Linked DNA regions of Homo sapiens. The protein of the gene in region 2 purifies or fractionates together with the protein of the main gene of each other region. This does not show direct contact. Each region holds a gene or a part of one and is shown on either strand. Other genes may lie near its edges.

Evidence for each region.
Region 1: the proteins of DNMBP (region 2) and SNX9 purify together in Homo sapiens (co-immunoprecipitation; 2 studies listed by BioGRID and IntAct, with this or other methods). This does not show direct contact.

The regions. Positions count from the first base shown.
Region 1 is NC_000006.12:157,937,651-157,945,245, reverse strand, and holds the end of SNX9 (sorting nexin-9), read right to left. Parts: intron 6,614-7,595; coding exon 6,499-6,613; intron 4,364-6,498; coding exon 4,272-4,363; intron 2,456-4,271; coding exon 2,408-2,455; 3' UTR 169-2,407; downstream 1-168. UniProt on the Homo sapiens protein: Involved in endocytosis and intracellular vesicle trafficking, both during interphase and at the end of mitosis. Required for efficient progress through mitosis and cytokinesis. Required for normal formation of the cleavage furrow at the end of mitosis.
Region 2 is NC_000010.11:99,874,622-99,881,087, forward strand, and holds the end of DNMBP (dynamin-binding protein), read right to left. Parts: intron 5,741-6,466; coding exon 5,190-5,740; intron 2,716-5,189; coding exon 2,530-2,715; 3' UTR 956-2,529; downstream 1-955. UniProt on the Homo sapiens protein: Plays a critical role as a guanine nucleotide exchange factor (GEF) for CDC42 in several intracellular processes associated with the actin and microtubule cytoskeleton.

The DNA.
Region 1 (7,595 bases), on a different chromosome or scaffold from region 2:
GTGAGTCATCTTTCTTGGTGACCCCAACACCTACAAACCATGCAGTGGGTTGACATCCCGGGACTGCTGCTCCTGGTGGGAGGCAACTGACGTCACTTGCTTGACAACGAGACTGACCTTTTCTTCCACCACGCCTTCATCTCTCCTCTCCAAATACTGACTTTTTTTCCACTATATTTGTAAAAGTTATGTGATTGTATGACTACAGCTCTTCTGTGGTACCTACAGGTTGATACAAATCATTAAAAATCAAAACATCAACGTATCTAAGAACCAAATGGTGCATGTGACTCCCCGGAGAAGGATATATATGCCATGTTGCCACTTGAAGGAGAATCTTCCAGGCATCAAATCCCGTGGATTCTCTTATTTTCTTTCACATTCCCTCTGCTTTTCCTCACAGTCGGCTACCACGCTCTGAGGAGCCCGTGCCATCTCCATTTCCCCCATCCCTTTTTCACTTTGCCTCACACCAGTCAAATCCAAATATCCGAGAGTCAGACACTGGGAGACTGTCTGCTTCTTGGCAACTCCCAGGTGGTTATGATACGCTTCCCGGACCGCAACACTGACCTACGGAACTGAAATGATGAATTCATGTCAGAAGAAATAGGATTTGGGGAAGAATTCATTACCTGGACCATTTTCAGCAGCTGGAATAAAAAGTACTTAACAACAACAACAAAAATCACACACAAAGTCCAAAAAGTGTTTTGAAAAAGTGCTTTGAGAATTTACTGTACAGTTTTTTTAAACAATTTATTTATATGTTGGCTTCTACATGCTCTTACATTCGTGTAAAACATTTATACATATTCTTTACAATTTGTACATATATTAAATGGCTATAGCATAAACATTGTTCTATGGGATTTTATAGAAGAAAAATCAAGTGGGGAGAATTACTTATGAAACATTAACAAAAACCCGTGATATTGAAGAACAAGATGTTCTCATATTCATTTGATTTCATCTACTTATTTTTGGTGTCATTTTATTGATGCTGGCCCAGACTTTCCATTTCCCGTAATTATTAGGTCAGAAAAATGAAAGCAGCGGGAGGGAACGCGGTAAGGCACCTGTGGGAGACGGGAGCGCTCCTCCGCAGGGGTGAGACGGTGGCTGCCAGTGTTGAGTTCGAGCTGACGGTGTGCCAAGGTCCTGTTTTGCTTTATGCCGTTAAGTGAAGCGCTGGAAGTGCTGGTGCTCAGAAACACCCTGTGTGAAGTTTCGGATGTAGTCGGGAAGGGCGCTGGTCTGTTCTTTCTCTCCAACCTCAGAGCGCCGGGGACTCTGTACACTGCTGAGGCTGCAGCCCTTCTCAGTCCCTACACTTTTCCATCTAATGGGGAGCTAACCTGTGCTTTTTCTCTTTGCTGATGACACCAACTGGCCATGAACCCGCCACCCAAGCCAAGCAGTGTGCCGTGGCCACAGCAGCGCTTCTCATCACGGTGGATGAGGAGCCAAAGAATAAGAAAGGGCCAGAGACGCCGGGGTGCTGGGTGCCCTCCTTCTCCCAGGCCCTCCCGAACACAGGCCTCCGCACAGCCACTCACCCGTTGGACCAAAGCCACAAAATTCTCTACAAAGTCCCTCAATTCTTCTAATGTATTCTTCATGGCATAAAACATGCCTTAACCAAGATTAGGAAGGAAGTGCAAAGAGAGAAAGCACTGGTCCTCACATAAGAGCAGCACATCAGAAATGTCGCTGAGGACATGGGTGGCCAGGGGTATCTGCTCATCTGCCAGGCTGTGGGGTCCCCCTGGAGGGACATGGGATGGCCCACCTGCCACACACCACGATGGCACTAGCAGCCCCAGGGGCCCCCAGCGTCCTCCCTCTTGAAGTGTAAGCACTTGAGCTGTAACTGTGGCAGTGAAAGGCGTAACGACTTCCCTCAATGACAGGAGCCCCAGAGGACTGAAAGGAGTTATAAAAATATACAAACATAGATATTTTTTATTCTGGCATAGTTCATGTTTTTAAGAAAGTAATTAGTAATTAATTATCTGACACTGGGTAAGAACTGGAAGATTGTGGGAGACTTATAAATTATATAAGACTTATAATTTATAAGACATATAAATTATGACTCTATGTAAAATATCAGTGGGGAGAAACCCCTCATTTTCCATTGAAAATTCTGGTAACTTTTAAGTACTTTCCAAAAATAGAGACAATTTCCACTGGTTTAAATAATGGATGCGGAAATGAACAAAAGACCATCCCTAAATAACTGACGCATTTAGGGTGGCTAATAAAATAAATGCAGTTTTTTGCAACTCTTTCTTTTTGGTTTTGTTTCCTTTTTTTTCTGAATAATAGGGGAAAAAAAGTTTTGAATTGCATTGCCCCAAGTCAGGAGAAAGCACGCGGCATTCTCTTCAAGGCCCGTTCTGTCCTACATCACTGGAAAGCGGCTGAGGGCCTGCCTCAGCTTTTCTGCAATCTGACAAGAAAGCAAAACAAAACAACGTTGAGATATCACTCCCATTACGACCTCACAGTGTTCTTTATTCACAACTCCAACAAGTTAAACATGACACAAATTCCAATTCTTTAACTGGTCTTTTTGGCACCAGCCCTGCCCCGCGTTGCTGCTGGACAGACCTTAACCCCGAATGACACCGGCAGCGCTGGGGCCCGAGCTGGCCCTGGTGGTCCCTTCCCGCCGGGAGGCGTCTACACATGCTCCCCACCTCTGCCCTAGCGGCGCTTCCAGACCACCTGCTTTTCCTCAGATGAGCTGGGGGCTCAGGCCTTCATGTTTGCCTAGAGCCCCCTCTTTCCTGGAGGAGTATGAGCTTCCAGAATCCCCTGAAGGTTGTGTCGCCCTGGCCACACCCTGCTGTCACTGCTGAGTGTGCAGACAGCACGAGCCTGCCTGTGAAGCTAACGAGGCGCTGCAGTGGTCTCTGCGCCAGGGCCTCTTGCTCCTTGAAGGCACAGCTGTCTTATCCATCCCTGGATGCTAAACATCCAGCACGAGGGCTTGGTATATAAGAAACACTCAATATATGTCTGCTCCATGAACACATACACAAATTTTAGTAACTTAAGGGTTACTTTGCCATAAAACTTAGATCTAAAACCTAACAATGTTATATCAGCTACTTAGGTTTATGCAAAGACAGTGATGAAATACATGGTTTTCTATTCTGAATTACAATGTCACTATACCATACCTGGACTTGAAAATCAATAAATCAACACTATCAAAATTTTGAGAGTTGCCCTTGCATTATTTTCTCACACAGACAAATGTAATCTGTTATATTCTAATATACAATGAAAGGCAAATCCACAATGGCACCAACTGACGGGAAAAGTGTGCATTTAAAGAGCATAGGGCCCACGTCCTGTAAGGGAGGACAGGGCTTAGGTGAGTTCCTCCCGTAAGTTAGTCTCCCAAACCAACTGTCCAAGACACAATTCACAAATATGCATTAGGTACATCAAGCACAGTTCTCCTTTAAGAACTGGCTGCTGGAGACAGGCGTTTTCAGCAGTGTCCAGCTCGCAGATGCCACCAGTATGGCTGAGCAGAGGGCTTGCTCACCACTCCCCATGAACATGGCTTAGATCCCATGGCCAGAGGGGAGCTGGGTAGGCAGCAAGGCCGCCAGCGGAGGCTGGATTCTACATTACAGACCTTACCTGCAGGTGTCTGAGGGAGACATGCTACTAGATTTTTGTTTTCTATAGACTCTGGTAAACAACAAAATTACTAAGCAGAGGTAAGAAAAATTTAAGTTTTCGTTATTGTTTTGTGAATAAAACCATCCCACATCTCGCTTTTTTGGTTTTCTCTCTGCGATTTCCATGGCGCACTGTGAAAACCTCATTCACAAAAAGCAAAGGCTGCCTTTGGTTTCCTGTGTGGTGCCAGGCTCCTGTTCCAGCTGCCAACGGAGTCCCAGGGACGGCTGGGTGACCTCATCTCATTCAGCACCGTTCCTGGTGCACAGAGGCACAGAGAGGCTGTGACGGGGGGAAGGAGCTGCACAATAAGGAACTTCTTGGGGCCTTGCAACTAGCATCCAAGACCCCTGCTTCAGAAGAAAATCTTTTTTAACCCAGTGTTATCCAAAAAGCAAAGGGCAGATGGAATTAGGAGATTAAAAAAATCCTGTCCAAAATTTAGGCTCCTTTGGTTTATTACTTAGGATTAAAGAATACAAACAGATTAACTTTACATGGTCAAAGTGGTTTACCAGGAACCCTCTCCTCAAGCACATGCGAAAGGCACGTGGACGCCCACTCACCGTTTCGTAAAATTGCACTTGCTGCTCCAGGTACAGGCGGATGACACTGTTGTAATCATAGATCCGGTTACTGTGAAAGTGATTCATCTCAGCTACAACCCAAATCAGAACATCAATCAGTTTTCCCTCAAGTTTTCAAATGACAACACCTGGTTTCTCTGCTCAGTTACAATTAATCATCAACCTGACCTAATCTGGTTGGCTGCTGTTGTCAGTTCTTGGTAAATCACTTTACTAAGAGGTTAGAAAAACAAGTTGAGCTGGGCGCAGTGGCTCACACCTGTAATCCCAGCACTCTGGGAGGTGAGGTGGGTGGATCACCTGAGGTCAGGAGTTCAAGACCAGCCTGGCCAGCATGGCAAAACCCCATCTCTACTAAGAATACAAAAATTAGCCGGGCATGGCAACAGGTGCCTGTAATCCCAGCTACTTGGGAGGCCGAGGCAGGAGAATTGCTTGAACTCAGGAGATGGAGGTTGCAGTGAGCCGGGATTGCACCACTGTACTCCAGCCTGGGTGACAGAGCGAGACTGTCTCAAACAAAACAAACAAAACAAAACAAGCTAATGACAAACATTACTTTCCAGTAAATGAATGACTTTCACTGTCTTGCATATTCAAAACTATAAAATCCAATACAGATAAATCACCCAAATGCAGCCTATTACTCTAACAGAATCGATCAAATAGAAAATACTTGGTCATATTTGTTACAGATGACTGCAGTTCAAAGCCTCTGGTGTGTCTGCACTGGACCTAGCAGGCAGCTGGGGTCCCTGCCCCGCTCCCTCCTGCACAGCAATTGCTTCAGCAGGTTTCTGGTGAAAGGCTGGGCAGCGTGTGGGACAGCGGGAGACCCTTCTTCAGTACGGGAAGCCTTGCTGCCCCTGAGCACCAGCGACGCTGTCAGAACTCAACCTCTCACAGGGCAGGAGGACTGGATGCTGAGGGACAACTTTCTTCATGTTTGCTGAATACATGGATTCCTTCTTTCTCTGTCCCCCCTGCCCCTGCCCCCAACTCTAGAGGAGTCTTCGTCATCAGAGGACCTCATTGCCTCCCTCGGATGCCTCCTATGCCGCCTTCTCCCAAACCCTCCAGGCTGAGAAAGCCAGCGGCTGCACAGATTCCCATGACATGCAAACTGTTCTACATTTTACATTCAGTTACTTGAAGTTATACAAAGCTTTGTATTTCTCAATTTGGATAACCTCAAACACAAGTTCAAAACCAAACTCCCCATTTCAAACCCTTCAAAACCCGAAACTTCAATCAGGGTTCCTCGTTTTTGCCGTAGTGGCCTGGCTCTGGACACCTCCCTCATCCTTCTCTTTCTCCCATGAATGCCCCAGTCTTGAAAGCTGTTCCTTGGAAAAGCCTGCAAATGTGCTTCATTCTCTTCTCCCCAGTACCACATCTTTAGGCCCTCAAAGCTCAGACTACAACAGTGAGATGGTCTTCTGGCTGGGCTCTTGGACAGTGTCTGCATCTTCCAATCTCCCCTCCATAACCAGCAAATCCTTCTCCCTTGAGGATTGATTTTTTTTTACTCCCTTTTAATGGCTTCTTAATGCCTGCATCAAGTCTAGAGCTTTCAAGTTCCTTCACAATCAAAATTTATTTCCCAATAACCTCTAAGTATGTTTTACTCTTTCATGCCCATGACACAATCTAGCACCACAATTTTGTGGCTTTTGTTCCTAACAGAACACGCTCTCCATTCTCTGCCCATCCAAGTGCCATCCACCCATCCGCCAACAGGAAAAATCCACTTGCTGCCCTCATCTGCTCAAAAACACTCAAACCTATAGAAATTCATCTTTTTTTTTTCTTGACACAAAAAAATTGTGCCTAAAATGACACACCCAAACCCCTTCACATTCCATGATCCCAAGGCACGCAGGTTACAGACTGCTAAAAGCTGGGCTCTGGCATTTAATAGAGCATTATGATACCACAGATTACAAAAGGAATCTTAAATGTCTCTCAGAAATAATAAAATGTACAGTTTTAATCAAGCTGTCATCTATAGCCAGATAAGGTGGACAGGTGAAAAATTAAATAAATATTACAGATTTTCATCAGCACCGGGATCCTGCAAACGAGGGGCTTAAAAGGTCTCACTTACTTAACTGCTGCTCACATCTGGATTTCTCTCTATCAAGGGAAACTTTGCTGGGGAAAAAAAAACTTCCACCAGCACCTCATAAGGACCCTTTCATCTTACCTTGCAACGCGTAAGACATGATGCTGACTCTCTTCACCATGTTCTGTTTGTCTTGTAGGGTGATTTTACTTGTTGCAACTAGTTTGTCACTTTCTTTCACTTTTTCTATTGCTCCCTGTGAAATATAAAATGCAACAGTATGAATAAAGCTGAAATGATTAGTCATTAGTTTAAAATATAACAATGCTAATATATTCTATAACTGATTTGCTACTGAACAGGAAATACCTCCACAAAATAAGAAGAGAGGAAAGCATCTAAATTTAACTTCCTTCAAGTCCCTTGGAAGCAAAAAGGTTGCTATTCTTGACAAATGTCACTAAGCTAAAATGAACAGTTTTATGCTACAACAAAAGAGAAAAGCAAACAGCACACCATCTCTGTAATATTCAGAAGCCGCTGCCATTTGAGGAGTAGCACGTAATGGAAATCAGGCATTAGCAGGTTTTGGAAGTCATGTGGCTAGGTACAGGGCAGCATGTGCACACAGGCACTCTCTCTCTTTTTTTATACAACAGAATATTTTATAAGCTAGTGCCTAAGTGTGCTGATTCTAAGTCCTGGGCTTTCCTTTGATTTTTTAAGAGGCGCTGAATCCATTTAAAGACTCAGATGGAAGCGGCTAGAAAAGCTGCCAAACATTTCCCACTCCAGTGTCATCACGCTGCTCGTTATTTACCGCTGTCTGGAAGGAACAACTCTATACTCATGCATTAATTAGGCTCCAGGCCTACAACTCTGATGCTGCTGGCATACATTTCGACAGCAAGCTAATTTTTCTGAGTTTTATATTAAGTTATCTGAAGTTGTACAAACCTAATTTACCTATGGTACCCCTTCATGATATTTAAGTTATAAAGCAGAATGCTAAAATGGCCACATGCCAGGACTGTTAAGATCACAGACCAGCCCTTTGCAGAGATTTTCCTAACAAATCCAAGTACATCATAATATACGATAGACTACTATGGTTGACATAAAATATAAAATACTCACAACTCATGCCTGAGGTGATGTACAGATTTTTAAAAAGGGAGAGAAAACCAGAATTCATATGTGAGGACACCCCAAACCAATGTCAAAATTCAGTTACAAAA
Region 2 (6,466 bases):
ACTCAGCCTGAGCCTGCAGGCCCGAGTTTCAATTCACAACCCCTCAAAAACTTGATATATGACTTGGGTGAGTACGAATGTCTCTGGACCCCATTTTCCTAGTCTATCACATGAGAGTAGCATAGGTGACTTATCAGCTGCTTTCCTGCAGCCTACCCAATTCAGTGATTTCTATTCCTTAACAACACTGGGTGATCGCTTTACTGTCACCCACCATACTGTCCTCAATCCCACCTCTGCCACTAGCCCTGCCACTTCCTTCCCTGCCCCCAACTGCCTGAGCTGCTGCTCCGTGACCTTGTTAGATAACCTTGTGTATCAGTGTCCACATCTGCAATATCAGGGAAATACTTATCCCCTAGAGATCCCAGCTCTTCTGTTTCGTTAGAATTTCACAGGACAAGATGAAAATAGAGGCAGTCACCTGCAGCATGGACATATTTTGAGTATACAGAGATTTTTTTTTTTTTTTTTTTTGAGACAGGGTCTTGCTATCGCCCGGGCTAGGGTACAGTGGTGTGATCTTGGCTCACTGCAACCTCTGCCACCCAGGTTCAAGCAATTCTCAGCCACTTGATTAGCCAGGACTATTGGCATGCAGCACCATGCCCGGCTAATTTTTGTATTTTCAGTAGGGATGGGGTTTCACCATGTTGGCCAGGCTGGTCTCAAACTCTTGGCCTCAAGTGATCCGCCCACCTTGGCCTCCCAAAGTGCTGGTGGGATTACAGGTGTGAGCCACCACACTCGGCCTGAGTATATAGAGATTGTTGGAATCTTTGACAGAATGACTTTGGGCCTGCATTTCTTCAGTTAGCCTCTCCCATTCTCCCAGATCTGGACATCACTCATTGTCAAGAAGGCCTCCCCAGAAGCCCAGGAAAAACGTTCAGCTTAAACAAACAAACAAAAAAACCCGTTCAGCTTAAACATGGAAATCAAGAAAACATCCAAGGCCATTAGAAATGCTTTTATTTATAAAAGAACTACTTAAATATAAACATCTCTACATAGAAACACTCTTCACAAAAGGACTCTTGCATTACTGCCTTCTGACCACGACCAGCAGACACTGTGGATGTTAGGACTCCACGGTGTCTCCCGACTCCCAGGATTTTAAGGCTAAATGTGCACTTGGAGGAACAGGGGCTGTAAGGCTATTTCTTCCCTTTCTTTTAAAAGACAAATTTCATGGTTTCCCATTCCAAGATAGGCTTCATAGCTGGGGAAGATCTTAAGATTCTTGGTCTAAGGGGTAAGCAAATATCTTCCTGAGACTGGGAGGTATGATCAGGCACTTGGGAATCTGGCTTTGAATGTCATCTCTGAAGCATGGAAGTTAGTGGTGAAAAAAATCTTATTTCCAAGTCTAGGATAAGCTACTTCTGGAATGGCTTATCCCAATTCAAGTAAGTCACAGGTGTTATGTTGTCTGCATCTATGGATGTAACTAAACAGTCATTAGGGTGCTTGGATGAAGAAGAAAGACATCCAGTCTTCCATTAGGCTCAACTGGTTTCAGCTCAAAGCAGAACTAATACTTTTAATGGAATGGCTGGAGCTCTCATACTGTTACTCTAGGAAAATCTATCAATTATTGAGTCCAGGGCAGGGGGGCCACCAGACATCACAGACTGTGTAAAGACCATCAGAAAGGTGTCATTGAGGTTGCGGTATGGTGGCTTACACCTGTAATCTCAGCAGGGAGGCGGGAGGGTTGCTTGAGCCCAGGCGTTTAAGACCAGCCTGGGCAACATAGCAAGACCCCATCTCAAAAAAAAAAGCGGGGGGGCAGTGATTGTACCTAACAAGGGAAGAGAATCTTTCAGATGAAGGGTCAACAGAAAATAAAGACCCTAAACACTTCTAAAAGTAGAACGCAGTTGAATTTTGCATAACTAATCTGGGAATGGAGTAAAAGAAACAAGGTTACAGAATGTAGTGCTTTAGGGACTTTAGAAATTAGGGGCAGTATGTATGAGAATGTGTGCTGGACACTGGAGGTGTCCCAGGAGCTTTGAAGCACTAGGTTTGGTTCAATCCCGACAAACTCCCAGCCATGTGCAAGCACTGCCTCACGGGGTGCCCAGAGCCATGAATTCTTTTCATCTGAGTTGGCATCCGGTCAGCTGAGCATGGAACATGGGGCCACCCCAAACGCCGTACAGCACAACCATTACCAACACTGTCTATTGCTAGAGCACAGCTTCCTGCATACATAGGACACTGGGCTTCTGACTGCAAGTTTCTCCTTTCCAAAAGCCAGCTCTAAGACTTGTCTCTCTTCTCATAGTCACTAAGTCATTTGCAAAGCCCCAGGGTCCATTTCAAATTCTAGAGATTCTAGTGAGCATCAAGGTTTACAACCCAATCGAGGAGAACAAGATCTGTGGTGTGCTCCACCATGCCATGGTTAAGCAACGCAGACAGGGCCTGTGTCTCAGGAGCAGGCGCCCTCTCGGTGGGCCGCCAGAACCCTCGGCGGACTGAAAGCAAAGGCAGCAAGGCTGGGTGGCAGGCAACGTGGGCTCAGGTGTACTCGGTTTTGCGGATATAATTGGAGGGAACGTAGCCCTTCTTCCCGTTAACCTCAGCTAACCACCACTCTGTATTTCCTGTAACATCTTTAAACTCGAGGATCTTGAGTTTCTGATTGGCTGACACGCTCAGCTCATTTGGGTTTCGTGCCTTGAAGGTGTAGACAGCAAAATAGACCTGTGTGAGGGAGAGAGAGAAAATGGGAAATTGCTGGGAGCAATGCCATCCAACAGCTTCGTGCGGTGTTGGGGAGGGTTCCACATCCACATGCCCACATGTGGCTACTGAGCCCCTGAAATATGGCCAGTGAGACAGAGGAACTGAATTTTTAATCTTATTTAATTTTAACTAAAATAAATTTAAATAGGTACATACGGATGATGGCTACCATAATAGGGATGATTAAAAGAAAACACCAATTTGGCCGGGCACGGTGGCTCATGCCTGTAATCCCAGCACTCTGGGAGGCTGAGATGGGTGGATCACCTGAAGTTGGGAATTTAAGACCAGCCTGGCCAACATGGTGAAACCCCACCTCTACTAAAAATACAAAAATTAGCCGGGCGTGGTGGCACACACTTCTAATCCCAGCTACTCACGAGGCTGAGACAGGAGAATTGCTCCAACCCAGGATGCAGAGGTTGCAGTGAGCCAAGATCGCGCCACTGGACTCCAGACCCTGGGCGACAGAGTGAGACTCTGTCTTGGAACAAACACCAATTTGGGAGGCTGAGGGCAGATCACTAGAGGTCAGGAGTTTCAGACCAGCTGGTCAACATGGTGTGAAACCCCATTTCTACCAAAAACACGAAAAATAAGCATGATGGTGAACACCTGTGATCCCAGCTACTCCAGAGGTTGTGGCAGGAGAATTGCCTGAACCCAGCAGGCAGAGGTTGCACCACTGCACTCCAGCCTGGGCAACAGAGCAAGACTCCATTTTAAAAAAACTACCTTTTCAGTCTTTTAGAATTGCTTTAAAGGGTGGAAGACGAGCATACTCTTCCATACCTCCAACACAAATTATGAAAAAGAAAAACCAGAAAACCACAACCAACTTCAAAGAAAAGTTGATCTTTAGATGCCACAAACAAAGATCTCATGATCTAATGCCCATGGAAGGGAGGAGCTCAGGGAGGAGGAGAAGCCATGAGGCCCATGGGGGCCAGAGGGAGGGACACGTGCCCCAAGGGCTGGAGCTTTAGGACCTGGTCAGGGACTGGAGCTGAGACTACAACTACATTCCCTGCTCGAACTCAATCTAAGAAAGGTCCTTCTTTTCCCTTTGATGTGTCTATAATAACTGTCTGCTTGGTAGGCCCAGAATGGGGATGTTTGACCCGGGAAGTAGGTAGTAAGAGAAATCACCAGAAAAACGAGCATGCACAAAGCTCGGCTATGGCACTGAGGAATGTGCTATGGGAAGCCTGAACTGAGAAAGTGGGTAAAAACTGGACTCTTAGAATCCAGACAGTGGCAGAGGCAGCACCTCTACAACCCAGGACACGACTGGGCCTTCCCATGAGGGCAAATCCTTCTGGAGATGAGCTCGCAGACAAACCTGACAGTCAACACAGGAAGATGCTCCACTGAAGAGCGAGCAAAGGCAACAAACGGTGCAGCAAAGACTCTGCAGCTGTGAATCTGAAAATGGCTTTAAAGCATACAGGTTAGTTCAAGATATGGCCAGCTGTGGGTGGCTCACGCCTGTAATCCCAGCAAATTGGGAGGCCAAGGCAGGCAGCGAGGTCAGGAGATCGAGACCATCCTGGCCAACATAGGGAAACCCTGTCTCTAATAAAGTAGTCCCAGCTACTCAGGAAGCTGAGGCAGGAGAATCGCTTGAACCTGGGAGGCGGAGGTTGCAGTGAGCTGAGATTGCGCCACTGCACTCCAGCCTGGGCGACAGAGCAAGACTCTGTCTCAAAAAAAAAAAAAAAAACCCAAAACGTTTGAGATACAAAGCCTACAATCAAACTCATAAACGGGAACAGGCCATTACAAAGAGAATAGGAAAAACTGGGGCTGGGCACAATGGCTCACGCCTGTAATCCCAGCACTTTGGGAGGCCGAGGTGGGCGGATCACTTGAGGCCAGCAGTTCCAGACCAGCCTGGCCAACATGGTGAAGACTGTCTCTACTGAAAATACAAAAATTAGCTGGGTGTGTTGGTGTACACCTGTAATCCCAGCTACTCAGGAAGCTGAGGCATGAGAAATGAGAATTGCTTGAACTTGAGAGGTGGAGGTTGCAGTGAGCTGAGATCATGCATTCCCCATCCTGGGTGACAAACTCCTCAAAAAAAAAATAAAGTATGGTTACTTGAATCAAAAACCAAACAAGTGGATTAAATGGATGTTATACAACTGAAGAATTAGTGAACTGGAAGAATAATGAAGTTGTCATTATAGCACCTTTTAAACACCCAGTGACACAGAGGGGTCCAGGAATAGCCTGTGAAGTATCAGCAGGGGAAGGTGCTCAGAAGGCTCTGATGGCAGAGATTCCTTGTGTGCTTGAAAGGTGTGTCTGTGAGCTCATCTCAGATCACCCCTAGGCCTCAGGCAAGCCACTTCTGCCTCACCCCCGCTGGTACCCACAACACATCTGCTGCCGCCTGTGCCACAGTGGCAGGCCTCTTACGCACTCACCTGGTTGCCTTCTGCCTCACTGCCATCTGGCTCTGTACTTCTGTCTTCCGGAGCCTGGGCTGTTCTTGCACATCCTTTGACGAGGTCTTGACTTTGCCCATTTCGTCCTGGTACGGAGTAGCCAACTATTTCTGGATGCCTGAAGTTCCGGTAGCTCCTCGGCGTGGCAGTGGGTTGCTTTACATCTCTAGCTACATCTGCAGAGTCCCCTGACCTTGGCTGGGAGGTGGAGTCTGGGTCTGAAGGGCATCTGGAAGGACTACTCTCTGAATTACTCGGATTTAGGGATGCACTGAGAGTTCCTTGGTCACATTCTTTTGGCGGAGGAGATGCATCTTGAGGCTGCTTCTGGCAAGACCCCGAGGTAAAGGATACAGCCATGCTGCTGGGGTTGAAGGTCAGGGTGCTGCCGCTGTTCTGGCGTGGGAACCTGGGGGAGGAGCTGCCGTGCTCAGACTCTGTGGAGGAGTGGCTACCCACGGAGGCATCGGAGTGGCTGCGGCGAGGATTGTAGGGCTTTAGGAAAGAGCTGTACACGAAGCCTTTGGTGACTACAAAGGAAACAGGAAATATAAACAAGAACTCTTAGCAGAAGGCTGGACAGACAGAGGGAGCATTGAGAGAAAAAAAACTGATCTAGGTTATTCATCTGTAAAATGAAGAGTAAAACAAAAACTCAAAAGCCAGGCCAATAGTGAGAGACACAAAATAAAATGCCTAGTGACAAAGCGGCTTGGAACACTCAGTCCCAGGATGTGATGTGTGTAGGTAGAGATGAAGAGCCGCAGCTGCCTGCCGGTTCATTCATGTTCACAACCTCACAACAGATGCATGCTCAGGAGGCCCATGGCCAACTGAGAAGACAGCAATGAAAACAATCCATGTCTGGGAACCGGCATGGGAAGAGAATGTCATAGGACACTGAGATCATGCCTAAGAGGAAGGCTTGATGAAGCCTATGTTCAAATACAGCAAGTGTGGAAAAGACCGAGTTAAGAACCAGCCTCGGCAGCGCACGGGAGCTCACGCCTGTAATCCTAGCTCTTTGGGAAGCTGAGATGAGAGGATTGCTTGAGCCCAGTTCCCTGGTCAACACAGCGAGACTTCATCTCTATTTGAAACAAAACAAAACAAACTGGGTACAGTGGCTCATACCTGTAATCCAGGCACTTTGGGTGGCTGAGGAGGGCAGATCACCAGAGGTCAGGAGTTCACAACCAGCCTGGCCAACATGGTGAAGCCCCGTCTCTATTAAAAATACGAAAATATTAGCCGGA